3 separate regions of the Homo sapiens genome follow, and all the other regions are linked to region 2. The links come from fine-mapping of genetic effects on plasma protein levels. A gene starts in region 2. Each other region holds a variant in brackets. All regions are shown on one strand. Distances are between the middles of the regions.

Region 1 (5,224 bases), 22 kb before region 2:
TCTTGCCTCAGCCTCCAGAGGAGGTGGGATTACAGGCATGAGCCACTGTACCTAGCTCTTAAAATATGCTAGTTTTATGGAATTTTTCTAATATTCCTACTTGCCCCGCCCCTCCACACTATAGTATTGATGTTCAAGATGGAGATTTGCAAGATTTTGATATTAAAAAATGAGTCTGATTTTCTTTTTTGAGATGATTATTTTTACAGTGAGTTCTCTGGCGGTGTTGTCAAATCATTCTTTAAATTTCCAGGAAACACTTTATGAAACAGTTAACCAAGTACAAGTCAATAACATTAAAAAGCAAAAGAAGAAGAAGAAAGAAAAAAGTAGTGGTGATGATGGAAACTATTCTAGATTTTAAAAAGACTAGATTTTAGAAATGAAATGGTCAGTCGGACTTTATATGGATCCTAGTTCAAACAAATAACTATAAAATACATTTTGGGCAGAAATGGGGGAAATTTGAATATGGTCTAAGAATTAGGTGATATTAAGAAATTGTTGTTAATTTTGTTAGGTGTAAAAATGATTTTGTGGCTATAAGATATCCTTATATTTTAGAAATGCTTGCTAAAGTATTTAGGGATGAAATGTTATAATCTGTATTTTTTTTAAAGACTAAGCAAATATGACAAAATGTAAGTCTACATGATGGTTATACAGAGTTAAATAGACAATCTTCTATTTCTATGCACATTTGAAGATTTTATAATACAAAGGCTTTTTGAGAAGGACATAGAAATTGCCAGTGGATTTCTTTACTACGTCTGTTTACTTTTTGTTTTTTTTTTATTTTTTATTTTTTAGAGGCAGAGCCTTGCTATGTTGTCCAGGCTGAACTTGAACTCCTGGGCTCAAGCAATCCTCCTGCCTTAGCCACTGAAGTAACTGGGATTACAGGCATGCACCACCTCCCCAGCTTCTACATCTATTTTAAGGAACCAATATGGGCACAATGTCTGATGAAAACTGTGGAAGAAAACTCCAAATATAAGTTAGGTAGATTTAAATGAGCTTTAAAAAATATTATCAGCTACTAGAATATAAAATGATGCAGCATTTATATGTAAAAAGTTCATGAAGCTTTCTTAATTCATTTATCCCCACCCATGTTCTGTGGGTGGGTATAAAAGAATAATAAAAGCATTGCCTGTTGAAGGAATAAAATTTTGACTCATAAATTGAACTTCATGAAAATTATTTAAAGTACTTCTAGATATAATAGTTTCGCCAGAAATAGTTCTCATTTGCATGATAGCATTTCCTATAAATGAGCAGAAGTTACGTGTCCATTGTAAAAAAAAATACAGATAATCCATTAGGAGAAAAAAAGGCCCATAATTCCACCCTGTTATTAATATGTTTGTATAGTTCTGTCCAGTACTTTCTTTGAGCATAGGTGTGCATCTCTCTTTTTTCCTCCTCTCTCCCTTCTTTCTTTGTTCCCTTTTTTCACACCACCATTAAATGTGAAAATAAAACCAGAAATAGGAAAAAGTGGCTACACCTAAGAGTGAAATCCACTTGTGATGAAAGCACTCCACTCCCAGAGTAAAGCAGTCTTTACTTTGGTAATTTATGTTTTCTTTTAACAGTCCTATGACTTTCATTTTTATTTTTTAATTTATGATTGACACATAATAATTGTACATATTTATGGGGTACAATGTGATGTTTTGATACATGTATAATTGTGTAATGATGACAGTTTAACATCTGTTGTCTTAAACATGTATTATTTCTTTGTGATAAGAACATTCAAAAACCTCTTTTCTAGCTATTTTGAAATGCACAATACAATGTTGTTAACTCTAGTGATCTTTCTATGCAACAGACCACCAGAACTTATTCCTCCTATGTAGCTATAGCTTTGTACCCACTGACCAATCTCTCACCTTCCCCGGCTTCTCCCCATCCCCCCATCCTCTGCTAACCACTATTCTGCTTTCCACTTCTATAAGAACAACTTTTTAGACTCCACGTATAAGTGAGACCTTGTGGGACTTATTTTTCTATGCCTAGCTTATTTAGTTTAAAAATGTTTTCCAGGTTCATCCATGTTGCCACAAATGACAGGATTTCATTTTGTTATTATAGCTGAATAGTATTCCATTGTGTGTGTGTGTGTGTGTAAACTATAATATGTATATAAACGTACCATAGTTTCTTTATCTATGCTTCTGTTGATGGACATTTAAGTAGATTCCATATATCAGCTAGTGTGAATAGTGCTGCAATGAACAAAGGAGTTCAGATACCTGTTCAATATACTGATTACATTTCTTTTGGATGTATACCCTGTAGTGGGATTGCTGGATCATATGGTAGTTCTATTTTTAATTTTTTTTTTTCTTAGAGATATA[G/A]TCCTACTCTGTCACCCAGGCTGGAGTGCAGTGGCTATTCACAGGCACTAGCTGTCCTAGGCTCAAGCTGTCCTCCTGCCTCAGCCGGCTGAGTAGCTAGAATTACAGGCCCATGCCACTGTGCCCTGCTGTTATTTTTAATTTTTTGAGGAACTGCCATACTGCTTTCTTCCTAATTTGTTGAGAGTTTTTATTATGAAGGGATGTTGAATTTATGGTATTTTAAATATATATTTTTAAGATCTCTTATATATGAGGGTCATTAGCCCTTTGAGAGCTGAGTTGCAAATATATTCCCCAGTCTGCCAGTTACTATTTTAAGTGTTTTACAACTTTATTATTGCACGTGGTCACATTTATGAAGGCTTCATATAATTACAGATAGTTATAATAAGACAATTATCACAATGCAAAGGAATCGATCAGCACCTCTTGAAAATGATATTATTATTGCTGGGCACAAATATATAGAGATAAATCTAATCATAACTTTAAAAAATCAAGGCATAATTTTCACATAATAAAATGCACATGTCTAAAGTATTCAGTTTTTACAATTTTGGCAGGGGTATTCACTTGTGCAAAAACCACCTAAACCAAAATTTGGAACATTTGTATAACCCCAGAAAGTGCCCTTTCTAGTCAGTTACCCAATGCCTCTCAACTGGGCAAGCATTTTCTAATTTGCCACCATTAGTTTTTGTTTGTTTCTGGACTTCACATATTTTAGAATCATTATAGTATATACTGTTTTGTACCCTGCTTCTTTCATTCAAGCATAATGTTTTTGAGATTCATTCATGTTGTTTGTTGGATTCATTCATGTGTTAACAGTTCATTTTCAGTGCTGAATAGTATTCTATTACATGAATATACCACTATATGTTTATCCAAAGACTTGTTAATGGACAGTTGGATTGTCTTCAGTTAGGGACTAGGAGCATTTGTGTATAACTTGTAGGCATGTGTTTTCATTTTTCCTGAGTAAATACCTAGGAATTTCTGGATTATAGGGTAGGTATATGAGTATAAGAAATTGCTCTAGTGTTCCTCAAGATGGTTGTACTCTTTTACACTCCCATTGGTGGTACATGAGAGTTCTAATTGCTCCACATCCTCACAACACTTGGTATTGTCCAGCTTTTTAATTTTAACTATTCTAGGGGTGTGTAGTGATAACTCATTGTGGATTTAAATTCATATTTTCCTCTTAAGTAATGATGATGAGAATCATTTCATGCACTTTTGTTTTTTTGCCATAGATTTTCATTTGTGAAGTGTTTGTTCAATCTTTTGTCCATTTGTAAATCGTGTATTTTCTTACTATTGAGTTGTAGGAGTTCTTAATATGTTCTAGATACAAGTCTTTTATTAAATATTGTTTTATTTTTATTTTCTTACAGTGTTTTTCAAAGAACAGATGTTTTTAATTTTGATAAAGTGCAAATTATCAGTATCTTTTTTTTGGTTAGTTTTTATCATATCTAGTCTGAGAAATCTTTGCCTATACTAGGGTGATGAAGATATTTCTCTCATGTTTTCTTCTAAAAGTTTTATAGCTTCAGCTTTTAAGCTAATATCTATAATCCATTTCATTTACTTTCTGTGGACAGTCTCATGCAAGGGTTGAGGTTCATTTTTTTTTATACAGATATACAATTGTACAAAGATTATTCTTTCTTCGTTGAATTACCTTGGACTCTTTGTTCAAAATCAATTGACCAGGTAAGTATGGGTCTGTTTCTGGGATCTCCATTCATTTTATTTATCTTTATGTCTATGCCTAAATCAATACATTATCTTGATGATTGTAGCATTATAATATGTTTTAGAGTTGAATCATGTGTCTTCCAACTTTGTTCTTTTTCAAGATCATTTTGTCTACTCTAGGTTCTTTATATTTCCCTATGCATTTTAGAATCACCTTGTCAACTTACACAAAAATGACTCCTGGGATTTTGCTTGGGCTTATGTTGAATTAAATTGGGAAAATGGACATCTTAACAATATTGATGATATATCTCTATTTATTAGGACTTACTTAATTTATCCCAAGAATGTTTTGTTGTTTTCAGTATAAAAGTTTTGTACATCTTAGATTTATTCCTACCTGTTTGGTGTCTGTTGCTAATATTACGCTATTTTTAAATTTCACTTTTTAATATGATTTGGATTTGTATCTATGTCCAAATCTCATGTTGAATTGTAATCCTCAGTGTTGGAGGATGGGTTGGGCGGGAGGTGATTGGATCGTGGGGGTCTATTTCCCCCATGCTGTTCTCATGATAGTGAGTGAATTCTCATGAGATCTGGTTATTTAAAAGTGTGTAGCACCTCTCCTTTTGCTATTCTCTGCCTTCTCTGGCCGTATAACACATGTCTGCTTGCCCTTTGCCCTCTGCCATGATTCTAAGTTTCTTGAGGCCTTCCCAGCCATGTTTCCTGTGTATCCTGCAGAACTGTGAGTCAATTAAATCTCTTTTCTTTATAAATTACCCAGTTTCAGGTACCTTTTCTTTTTTTTGAGACGGAATCTCGCTCTGTCGTCCAGGCTGGAGTGCAGTGGCGCCATCTCGGCTCACTGAAAGCTCCACTTCTCGGGTTCACGCCATTCTCCTGCCTCAGCCTCCCGAGTAGCTGGGACTACATGCGCATGCCACCACGCCCGGCTAATTTTTTGTATTTTTAGTAGAGACAGGGTTTCACCATGTTAGCCAAGATGGTCTCGATCTCCTGACCTCGTGATCCGCCCGCCTCGGCCGCCCAAAGTGCTGGGATTACAGGCATGAGCCACCAGGCCCGGCCTCAGGTAGCTTTTTATAGCAATGTGAGAACGGACTAATACACTTTGTTTGTTA
Region 2 (5,224 bases):
TACCAATGAAAGTTTTATTTCTCTGGATTCCATGCTTCAACTGAGAGTTGGGTGTTGAAATATAAGCTTTTGGGTGAAAATGGCAAGTAGTGCCCAATGCCCTGGTACTGCATTTGGCTTACTGGAAGGTGCTCCTGGTCCCTTATTCTCATGTAGCTGCAGGAACTCCCTGGTTCAAAGTGAGGAGATTCTCTTTAAGGGGTGTGTGCCTTTGGACAAGTGGCTAAATCCTTCTGGGCCTCAAGTTTCCTCTCTGTTAAAATAAGACTGCAAGACTAGATTGCTTACAGATCCCTTTCAGCACTGATTTTTGTGATTCTGGAAAGAATATTACAGTGTGTAAGTGGTAAGACCCCAAATCTTTGGACACTTTGAGTTCTGAGTTTATTAGTATTAGTTTAAATATTTTTTATTTTTGAGATACTAGGATATGGTTAGCGGGATCCATCTTAAATGTAACGTGCATAATGTTCTGCCTAAGATGGCCTGCGTTACAAATGCTCAAAACACTCTCCTCCTGGGACTGTGACTTCCTGTGCCTGGCCTCTCATCGCTACTCTCTAGTTGCCCGAGACAACTGCGAAATTCACCTGTGTCAGGCTGGCAACGCATAGTGACTTTATTACGAAATGTCTTCATGACCTTGGTGCCCAGGTGGTCTTCAGTATAGTCCAGCAGTCAAGCAGTTGCTTAAATATGACTTAAGCTGTATGACTTTGCCGTGCCTCGATGTTCTCATCAGTTAATAGGCACAACAATAGTATGGGTGTCACAGGTACTTTTTCTTCATACACAGTATTGTTTTTCCCTTGTCAAAGTGTATAATTGTGCATTTACCATTATGGTTTTTGCAGTAAAGCCTGTCCTCTTCGTAGTGTATAAACTCGGTGAGGGCAGAGAGCCTGCTTTGTTCACTACTGGCTTCCCAGCATGTCCTACTGTACCTATCAATAGAGGCTGATTGACAGTTATTGACTACATGAATGAGTGAAGGCATGAAGGGCGTCATCATATAGATACCATGTGGGAAACGGATGGTCTTACTAAGAGCTAGCATGCACTCACTCACTGGTTCATTCACTATGCTTTCATTTAGGAAGAACGATCCCGCGTTCTGATAGGAAAACACATTTTCTTCTAACCCCCAATTTGAGGGTCAACTCCTGGGACCCCTTGCCTCGGGGGTCAGGCCGCGCTTGGCTCGGTTTGGAAAGGGCTGGCACGCTTCCTCAGGCGGAGGGTATGCACAGAAGCGGAGAATTCATTATAACCGGTTAGTCATCCGTAGAGGCTGTAGACACTGCCCGCGGGCGGGGCGCACCTGGCGCTCCTGGAGAGGGGCCTGTTCCTTGCGTTGCCCCCCAAGGTGGGAGCGCGACCTGCCAGAGCCCAGGGGAGCTCGGGTCTGCCCGCACTCGGGAAAAGCACTAAGAGCCTCTCGGTAGCAGTCCTTCTCCCTCGCTGCCAACTCTGAGATCAAGCCCAACATCTGCAGGGGTAACTTTTTCCAGGGACTACTGGAAAGGAGAGCCGGCCTGGCTCCTAGCCGGACACCACCTGGCGGAAGCTGGAGCCCGCCCTTACTTCCCTGCAACCTGAGGATGCTGAGGCCAAGGGCGGGTGACGGGGCAGAAAGCAAAGCCCTGGTTGCAGAAAGGCATGCAAATATGAACCCAGGTGTCTGGTGCGCCGGGAGCCCCGGCGACGTTAGGAGCGCACTCCTTGCTGGGGTCACCGGAGTTGCGCTTGGCCGGGCAAGGATGACTCAGCCTCACTCCGGTCGGTCTTTACCGCCAGCCTGCGCGAGGGCTCCACAAAGTTCCCAATCACACCCCATACCTCGCACGGGGGAGAGGGGTTCTGCAAGCTGGGTCCCGGGGTGGGGGCAGCGGCGAGAGAGGCGGGGAGAAGCCTGGTTCCCAGAACGCGCAGGGGCTTCTCCGGCTTCCTTTCTCCTCGCCCCTGAGGGCGGCGAGAAGGCGCCTCCTCCGGCGCTCACTGCCTCCTGCCCAGTGCGGTGGGCGCCGGAGTGGGGAGCAGGCAATCCCCCAGGCTCGGAGAAATCTTTTATCCCGAAATCCAGGGTGTCCCCCGGTCAGGATCGACTCGGCGCCGCGTTGGCTTCCTCGCTCAACCCTGACATCCCGGTCCCCACCAGTCACCGCAGCCGGGCGGACTCCGAAGGCAGCGGCCGCTGGGGAGCCCCGGGGCCTGGGTCGGGCGCGCAGGGGGCCGCTGCGCTGCGGCCGGATGCCGGGAGCCCCGCGCTGGTGCGCCCAAGCCGTGGTGGCAGCACCGCCCTCCGTGCTTTCCCCTGTCGGGCGCCGCGGCCGGAGGAGCAGCTGCGGGCGGTCACGCAGCGCTGCCCTAGCCAGAGCCCCGAGCTCCCACCCAGTCCCATCCCCAGCCCGATCCGCCCCGCGTGCGATCCCGCCTGCCGCCGCGAGCCTGTGCTCCTTTCTGAGATTTCTGCTTCTTCCCCAGCTCCCTCCCCGCAGGAGAATCGCGCGGCGGGGGCGGAGGGCGCGCCCCCTTTAGGTTCCGCGGCCCCCGACCCCGCCCGGCCCAGGGGCGGAGCGGGCATGCTACGCCCTCTCCTAGCAGCCGCCCGCAAAGTGCGGAGCGCCGCGCCCTGCCCTCGGCTTCCCTCCCGCGCCCCCAACCCCCACCCTGGCTAGGGTCGCCCGGCCCGGGGCCAGCCCCAGAGTCGCGCCCGCGGTGGCGGACTGCGGAGTTGTAAAGAACTCAGCGGCCGCAGTAGCCCGGGTGGGGCAGGGCGCGCTCCGCCGCGGCCAAGGACACTGGAGTTTCCGAGTCCCCGCCCGCGCGGCGCCTCCTGCCCCGCCGCCCTCCCGCCGCGGCCCGCCGGACTCCCCGGGGCCGCCGAGGCGGGGCCGGGCGGCTGCTGCTGCTAGAGGCGCGTCTCGCTGCCTCCTCCCCCGCCCGCCTCCCTCCCCACCTCTCCTCCCTCCCTCCCCACCTCTCCTCCCTCCCTCTCCTCTCCGCCCTCCCCGCCCCCCCCACCCGCTCCTTTTTCTGCTCCCCAAGTGAGCCGGGCGCGCGAGAGGCAGGCGGGGCGGCGCGGAGCGGAGCAGGCAGCCCCGCGCGCTCGCCCACCGCCCGCTCCGCGCAGCTCCCCGCGGCCGCTCTCGTCGCCGCCGCAGCGGGCGCGTCGGAGGGAGCCCAGCATGGCCGGGCCGGGCTCGCCGCGCCGCGCGTCCCGGGGGGCCTCGGCGCTTCTCGCTGCCGCGCTTCTCTACGCCGCGCTGGGGGACGTGGTGCGCTCGGAGCAGCAGATACCGCTCTCCGTGTAAGTGCCGGCTCCTGCGCCGCCCGGGGAGGGGACCTTGCCGCCTGCGACCCACTGTGCCCAAGTTTGGGCGCCTGCAGGTGCGGCTGGGCAGGACCCGCCGCGGGCGTCGGCCTCGCCGCTCGCACCTGCCTTTCGGGACCCGCGTCGGGCGGCGAGGCCGGGGTGGGATGCTCTGGCCCCTGCCCGCAGGTTGCCGAGTGAGATCTGGAGAGGCTCACCTCAAGTGACGGCACCAACTTTGGAGCCTGGTTACCGAATCCAACTTCCATGGGCCGCTGAATTTCCCCCCTCTTTGCTCTACTGCCGCCCCACTTCTTTTTTTGGGGGGGGGATGGGTGGATTTCTTCTGACTGCTATTTGCCAGGTGATGCCCAGTTTGGGGGGTCGAGTCCTCGGGCAGTGGTTCGAATGAAACTCAGTGGTCTTTTTAGAGAGCCTGGGAGACTTTGCGCATTCTTAACTCCGCGACCCCCCTCGGGCCCCCTCCCGCGCTGCGCTTTGCAGTTTTGGTGCTGGCAGTTTCTACCAAGCCGCTTTTTCTATCTTTTCTTCTTTTAAAACATGTTACATCGCACTGCTCCTTCAGCCATAGTCCCATGTGTGCGTGTGCGTGTGCGTGCGTGTTGACTGTGACACGGGTGTTACATATCTTCCTGTGCCCCTTCTCCCTGTAGGGTGAAGCTCTGGGCCTCGGCTTTTGGTGGGGAGATAAAATCCATTGCTGCTAAGTACTCCGGTTCCCAGCTTCTGCAAAAGGTAAGGTTTCTGTGGTGGCAGGAAGCGATGATTTTTCCGGCACAGAAAATGGAGGCAGATTTAGTTTTCCAAACAAACGTGAGCCCCGAGCAGCATCAGTTATCGGAGGACTCTCTGATCCCCGGGTTTCTTGGCATTGTACTATGCAGTGACTTCTTCCTACCAACCGGTTATTTTTAGATGACACTTGATTCTAACCACAAAGAAAAGCAGGATACTCACTCGCACTGTCCTGGCTGGGGCTCGGAAACTGAGTGTTTTTGCATGGCTCTCGTCTCCGTGTCGGTATTGCTGTTTCAGTGCCAGAGCAGATGCTCCTCGGGCCAAAAAATGCTAACTTCATCCAAGGGGCAGACTCAGTGCCTATTTTGTGATGCCTTTCACCTTGCGTTGGAGGCGTGGGGTTCAGTGTATCAGAGAAAGACGCTGCACTATTGTTTGTCATCCCTGCAGTTGTACAATCCCATTATTCCCCAATCATCTAGACCCAGGGCTAGGATGCATTACATCATTGCAGATAAGGAGAATGAATGTGGTTATCTTTCCACTCAGCTGCACTGCCGGGTAATAACCTATGAGAGTAGTCCACAAACTTAAGAAATGGGTCTGCATCCATGTAATTCTGGAGAGTAATGAGAATGGAGAATTGATTATTAGGTTCTTATCACAAGCTGCATCAATTTTAATTCAAATAGGCAGCATTTTAAGCATAAGCTTAAAATTACATTGTGAGATAAATGGTCCTTCGTTCTCCCCTTCAGGAAATAAAGAAAAAAAAATGGGTCTGGGAGGAGAGATTAGAGGGGTTCAAAGAATTTCAAGTTAGCAGATCAACAGGATTAATCAAAGTATTCTCTTGATGATAGAAAATAAAATTGGCCTTTAGGGAATAATTCTCTGAAAATGGGTACAAACAGCTTAAATTGTTAAGTTAACTTTTAAACATTTTAAAATATGATTTTTGGGCCAATGTACCATATGTGTTATGCATGCTGCCTGGTAACCAAGTACGTATTTTATTTATGGCATTCCCCTTCAGAGAGTAGCATTTTTGGGGACAGTATATGAAACAGTTTGCCACATGAAATCCAAATATCGTAATAAAGCGTTGGCCCACCATGGAATGACAAAAGTTATTATGGTTTAAAAATCGCC
Region 3 (5,224 bases), 760 kb after region 2:
TTGTTATGATTTAAGACAAGGGCAAGACTAAAGGAGGCATCAGTGACCCTGGCCTTGGACACTCCCAGACCCCCATGTTGATTGTTCTGTGCTACTGGGAGTTGGGGGTGGGGTGGCATGGAGACACAGCGAGGCTTACCTAATCTCTAGTTTGCCTGGGGAATGTGAGAGGAGAAGGTCCCAAATGGCTTTAGGCAGGCACCAGAAAGAGGAAAAATGAAAACCATGTTAAAGATAAATCGAGCCGTTCTTAAAAGTTAGAAAGTAGACTTAATTAGGACCAGCTCTCCCTGTCCAAAACCACAAAAGTTAAAATGGGAAAATATTTCCAGAAATGCCTATTATGTGTTGTTAAAAAAATATCTAGAGTAAAATATATGTTTTATTTTATACATGCCTCCAGCTAAAAATTATGCCTTTACTCACTCACACAGAAGATGAGAATGCAAACCCAAATCTAGACAGCCTCGAATCAAATTTAGGTTGCTTGCTAGTGTTGCAGTTTTCTATCGGCCAGATCTTACTCAAGCTCCTCAAAGGAGAAAAGAGGGGAAAAGATGAAAAAGACAAGAGAGGGGTGGGGAGAGAGCCTTTCCTGACAGGCTGTGGCATGTCAGCGTTTGCTCCTATTCCATTAACTGGCCTTCTCTGTCGTCTTGCCTTGGTGCCCATGACGGCACATCTTTCATCACTGCGTCTGCTGTCCTCCTCTGAACTCATGGAAGGGCCACATGTAATTAGATGAGGTCAGCTGGGGGTGGGGGAGGAGAGCCAGGCTCGCTGCTCCTAAACAGGACCTCCAAAAAATCAGATACAGGGTCGCTCCTGTTCACTGCCTCATCAGCAAGGTCATTAATTGGCCCAGATTTCTCAGAGAGCATTTAAAGATGATTCATCTTAGGAAAGGCTAACCCCTGTCTTCCAAATGCTTGGCCTTTTTTTTTTTTTTTCTTCTTCTTTTTAACTACTGTGTAGGAAAACGTCTTTAACTTGATTACGTTTTGAAAAGTGATTTCTCCATGACAAATCAGTACCCTTTTTGAAAACGTACCTTGTCCCCAGAGACGTTCTTGCTCGGCATTTCAGCGGGTCTCCAGGAGTTCACGCTCTGACCCCCGGGATTCATCAGTATCGCCAAGGCTCTTTTGTTATTGTCCTGAAGTTTACACGAGCTCCCCAAATTAAAGATGAAGGTCATTTATTTATTGTTGTTAGCCTGTCTCCCATTGTACATGAGCAGTTGGGTGTTTTATTCTTCAGAAGCTCTGTTTTCGAGGTGTAAGTTCAATATGGAGGCTCCACTGCACGCTGAGGATGCAAGATGTCCAGATTACATGATAACCCAGGGAAGAACTAACACACTTTTCTTTTATCATTTTAGTTGAGAAATGCTATGGTGAATCGAAAGACGGGGAAGTTTTCCATGGAGGTGAAGAAGACAGTGGACAAAGGGGTACATTTTTCTCAAACATTTTTGCTGCTTAATTTAAAACAAACCACTGTGAAAAATTAGCTTTGAAAGCTATATCTGGAATAAATATCTTTCGCTGAGATCATTTTTCTCTTGTCTTTACTTATCTCAAACAAGATTCATGTAGTACTGTTAACCTGATCATAGTGTGTCCATTTATTTTTATTTATTTCTGAAGACGTCACTTAGCAGACTAACCATGTTTTCTTTTCTCTACGACTTTTTTTTTTTTTTCAATCTAGAAACGGGTTTTGGTGATGACAAATGACTACTATTATACAGACATCAAGGGTACTCCTTTCAGGTAGAGCTGACCATAATACATGGACATTCCATCAGACCCATCAGTTGTGTTTGTACAAAACCTGCTGACACTCTCAGAGCTCATCATCTGAAGATAACCAAACACCCTGCCAAAAGGCTGGAAAGAGTGAGGAAGGGGCTTTTCCCAGGCTGCTTTTGTTTTCCAGAAGG[G/C]GGGGAGATGGTTCAGGCTCACCTAGGAGAACTCACTCAATCTGCCATGGCTTTGCATCTCATTGTCAAGCAAATATGCTTTGGGGGTTCCCGCTAAGGGTGAAGACAAGTGCAGAGGGTTACCAGGGTCCTTAACTATTGAACTTGCTGCTTTGTGAGTTCCATTTCACCTTTTATTTCCATGACCAAAAAAACAATCCTTCAAACCTGGAGGTGGCATATCCATTCCTACATGTTGTGCCTCTGTTTCCATTTCTCTGAACTGTCCTTGTGTGCTTGTCTACTTTTGAATCCTGTTGTTTCTCTTTGTAACAGTCCTGAAAAATGGCTTTGCCTCATTGGCTGCTTTCAGATGTGTATGTAGCATTCTAAAGTTTCCCACTACTATTAACTTAGTGTTGTAATTCATTTTGTAAAAAATTATTTCAGTAAGCCTGCTTCATATTCCTGAACTGGCGTCTCAGAGCTAAGGAGAGAAGGAGTTTACTGACTGTAGAATAATCTGAAAAATAAATTCTAGCATTGTTGTCCTAAACTGCCAAGGATCATGGGTGGATTCCATGTGGAACCAGGAGCAAATAAGGACCACATGAGCTGCTAAGTGGGTTTGCCAAATAGTCTCTCTAACGTAAGGGACTATGTTTTAAAAACATAGTCTCTTGCTTTTGATAAAAACGGAATGGATCTTAAATCAAGCCAGTGAGTGTGAAAAACCTATTAGACTAGGGAGAGGATTGGGCAAAGAAGCCTGCAACACAGTAATGTGGTTACACTCATGTAGTAGTGGAAGTTTTTGTTTTTGCCCTTGAGCAGGGGTCAATTTCCCGAGTCCCAAAGTCTAGGGGCTGGAGAGACCCATCTCTGGCTGAATGCAGGACAAGGGTGTATAAAGAGCAGGGCTCATGGTCCTTGGGAGGGCATCTGAGAGAAGGGCTTGCTGGAAGGGCGAGCAGTTTGCCACAACTCTGAAAACACAAAGAGTAGCCAATTGCTGCTGGCATTTCTGATCAGAAGTTACTTTGAAGCAGCTGATTGAACCTAAGAAAAACCAACACCAGTGATAATCAGTGGGGTTTTGAAAGTAAACAGTTGGAAAAATTGTTGACAGATCATAAAATGGAAATGTGAAAAATGGAAAATTAAAAAATGTTAGCCCACAAGTCTATTCGAGTCGATGCCAGGGATTTCAAGATTTGCTTTGTCTCTCTGCACAGTTTAGGTGTGGCGCTTTCCAGAGGTCATGGGAAATATTTCTTCCGAGGGAATGTAACCATCGAAGAAGGTAAGATACTGCCTGGCTCGTCTTATCCTTTGGTGTGGGAGGAAAGCTCGGGAGCTAGCTACTGAGTTAGCTGAAGAACTTGTTCATCTGTCCGCACCTGTGACCAGTCCCTTGGACATTCCACTCAAACGAATGCCTACTTGATAATTCTTAATACCTTTCTTCTTCCCTGGTGTGCCTAGATTTCAGAATGACAGGAGTTCCGATTCATGGTTGTGATTTAATTTACTTATATTCTACTTTCATCCACAAAGCTGTTGACTATGAGTAACTCACAGTCAACAGCATTATGGATGAAAGCAGAGTATCAGTAAATAGGAATCATCCCTCAAGTATATTCTTCTCATACATAAAAATCAGTACTTGGGAGAAATACAAATTTATGAAATAACTCATGCCCAGGGGAAACCATGAAAACAGAGATATGAGAGCCTTAGTCTCTCCTACACAGTTGAGCCACGTATTTCACTTGTGTTTCATGGCAGCCCTGGCCCAAAGGGAAATGTGACCATTTAAATGATTTACATAGGTCAGAGGGAGTAAGTAGCACCTTGAAGTTCCCAGACCCTCTTATCTTCATAAAGCACAGAGGCACAGTAAACTCTCAGTAAACAGGAGCAGTTGTTATAGCTCTTTAAATTTTAAAATTGCTGTCACATGTGCTATCCTTTTCATCTGCCAGCTCCCTAGTAGTTCAGAGAGGTTACCTGTCCCAGCATTAGGAGCTCACAGGGGTGGTGGACATTGTTTCTGAAGGGCACCACTCCCTGAGTGGCCTTGAGTGACTCACTTGCAGGTCATTAGGTTTTGCATGTCCACAGAGGAGGAGTGGGCCCAGAACAGTAGTCTTTCTGGATGTCTTTAGGGAGGACAGCCAGGAATGGGAAGGTCAATTATAAGCAAAGTTTTAATTGGTCGGAACTGATTACACATGTATGTGGTGAGTTTCCAGAAGCTGGGCCATCCATGGCGCCCTCAGATGATGCCACAGGGCGTGAGGAAGGAGATGGATGTTCCCTGAGACGCCAAACCCCTAGATAGCCTCTGATTTACTGCCAGTGGTCCCTGCCCGTGTTGTTTCAGGGATGTTGGTTTGTGCTTCCCAAGTGCTTGTGAGATCGTATAGGGGCAGAAAGGAGAGTAGAGAGGCTCACTGTGAGCTGGGCACAACCCAGAGTGTGCCCACCAAAGAGCTAACCATGTGGTCTCTCTTCCCAGAGACATGCCAGAGAACACAGGCAACTCTGTGACTTGAGCAAGACACTCTGCAGGATGTGTTTTCAGGATCATGTTTTCACTTCTAGAATTTTCTGCCTCTGTGGGCCATGTTGGCTCTGTGGACATCACTGCCCATGAAGCCAGAAAATTCATGTCTAAGCCATGTGAGGTCACGCTGAAGAAACAACTCATGGTCAGAACAATAGGAGAGGTTATTAAGAGATATTAACTGCCTCTCATGCGTCTGCTCCCTTGGTCAATCCTCAATACATGGGCCTGTCCCTCCCTTCCTCTCTCTCTCTCTCTCACACACACATACATACATACATGCATGGAGACACAGATACACACAGTTGTTTTGCATTGTCTTTTGGATTCTTTTTCAGTCACTATCTTCCTGTATGTTCCACAGCTGTGAGGCTAAGCAGTCACAGAGAATTTCAGAGCTAACTGTAACCACTGTGCAAAAAATTAGCTCAAATCCTCAGCAAGGGGGAGAGTGGCTGCTTATCCACCCAAATGAGGTCATATCTTCCTCTCTCTGTTGGTCCTCTGTAAATAAAAAGACTGACAATCCTGCCAGCTTTGCTGAGTAATAGAACTTAAGAAAGCTGCTTCCCCTTGGGCCAAATAGTAGAGGATCTTGTCATCTCTCTAGGAGCCGTGGTGTATTATTGTTCTCTTCTGTTCTTGGAGAGGGAAGGAGTTCCTTGGGGTTGGCAACCATACTTCTATAGGATCTTCAATAAGGAATAACTGCCTACAGAATGTGGGAATTT

The links. PIP is the posterior inclusion probability: the model's chance that the variant is causal. Sun 2018 read protein levels with aptamers (SomaScan).
Region 1: its variant is fine-mapped to the plasma level of the CACNA2D3 protein (Sun 2018, PIP 0.95).
Region 3: its variant is fine-mapped to the plasma level of the CACNA2D3 protein (Sun 2018, PIP 0.95).

Annotation. Positions count from the first base shown.
Region 1 is chr3:54,097,157-54,102,380 of GRCh38, forward strand. All of the region lies in intron 1 of LOC124909381 (a long non-coding RNA gene), which reads right to left. Among named protein-coding and RNA genes, the nearest start is that of CACNA2D3, 23 kb to the right of the region's middle. The variant G/A (reference allele first, on the strand shown) is at 2,367.
Region 2 is chr3:54,119,526-54,124,749 of GRCh38, forward strand. It overlaps CACNA2D3 (calcium voltage-gated channel auxiliary subunit alpha2delta 3), which reads left to right and starts at 3,027. Exons shown (of 38, transcript NM_018398.3): 1 at 3,027-3,310; 2 at 3,988-4,069. The coding sequence starts at 3,189. LOC124909381 (a long non-coding RNA gene) reads right to left here and starts at 3,917. Exons shown (of 2, transcript XR_007095914.1): 1 at 3,532-3,917. RefSeq lists a silencer at 1,784-1,833.
Region 3 is chr3:54,877,637-54,882,860 of GRCh38, forward strand. CACNA2D3 (calcium voltage-gated channel auxiliary subunit alpha2delta 3) reads left to right here. Exons shown (of 38, transcript NM_018398.3): 19 at 1,382-1,453; 20 at 1,714-1,775; 21 at 3,160-3,227. CACNA2D3-AS1 (CACNA2D3 antisense RNA 1) reads right to left here. Exons shown (of 7, transcript NR_046666.1): 4 at 1,052-1,308. Among named protein-coding and RNA genes, the nearest start is that of CACNA2D3-AS1, 21 kb to the right of the region's middle. The variant G/C (reference allele first, on the strand shown) is at 1,946.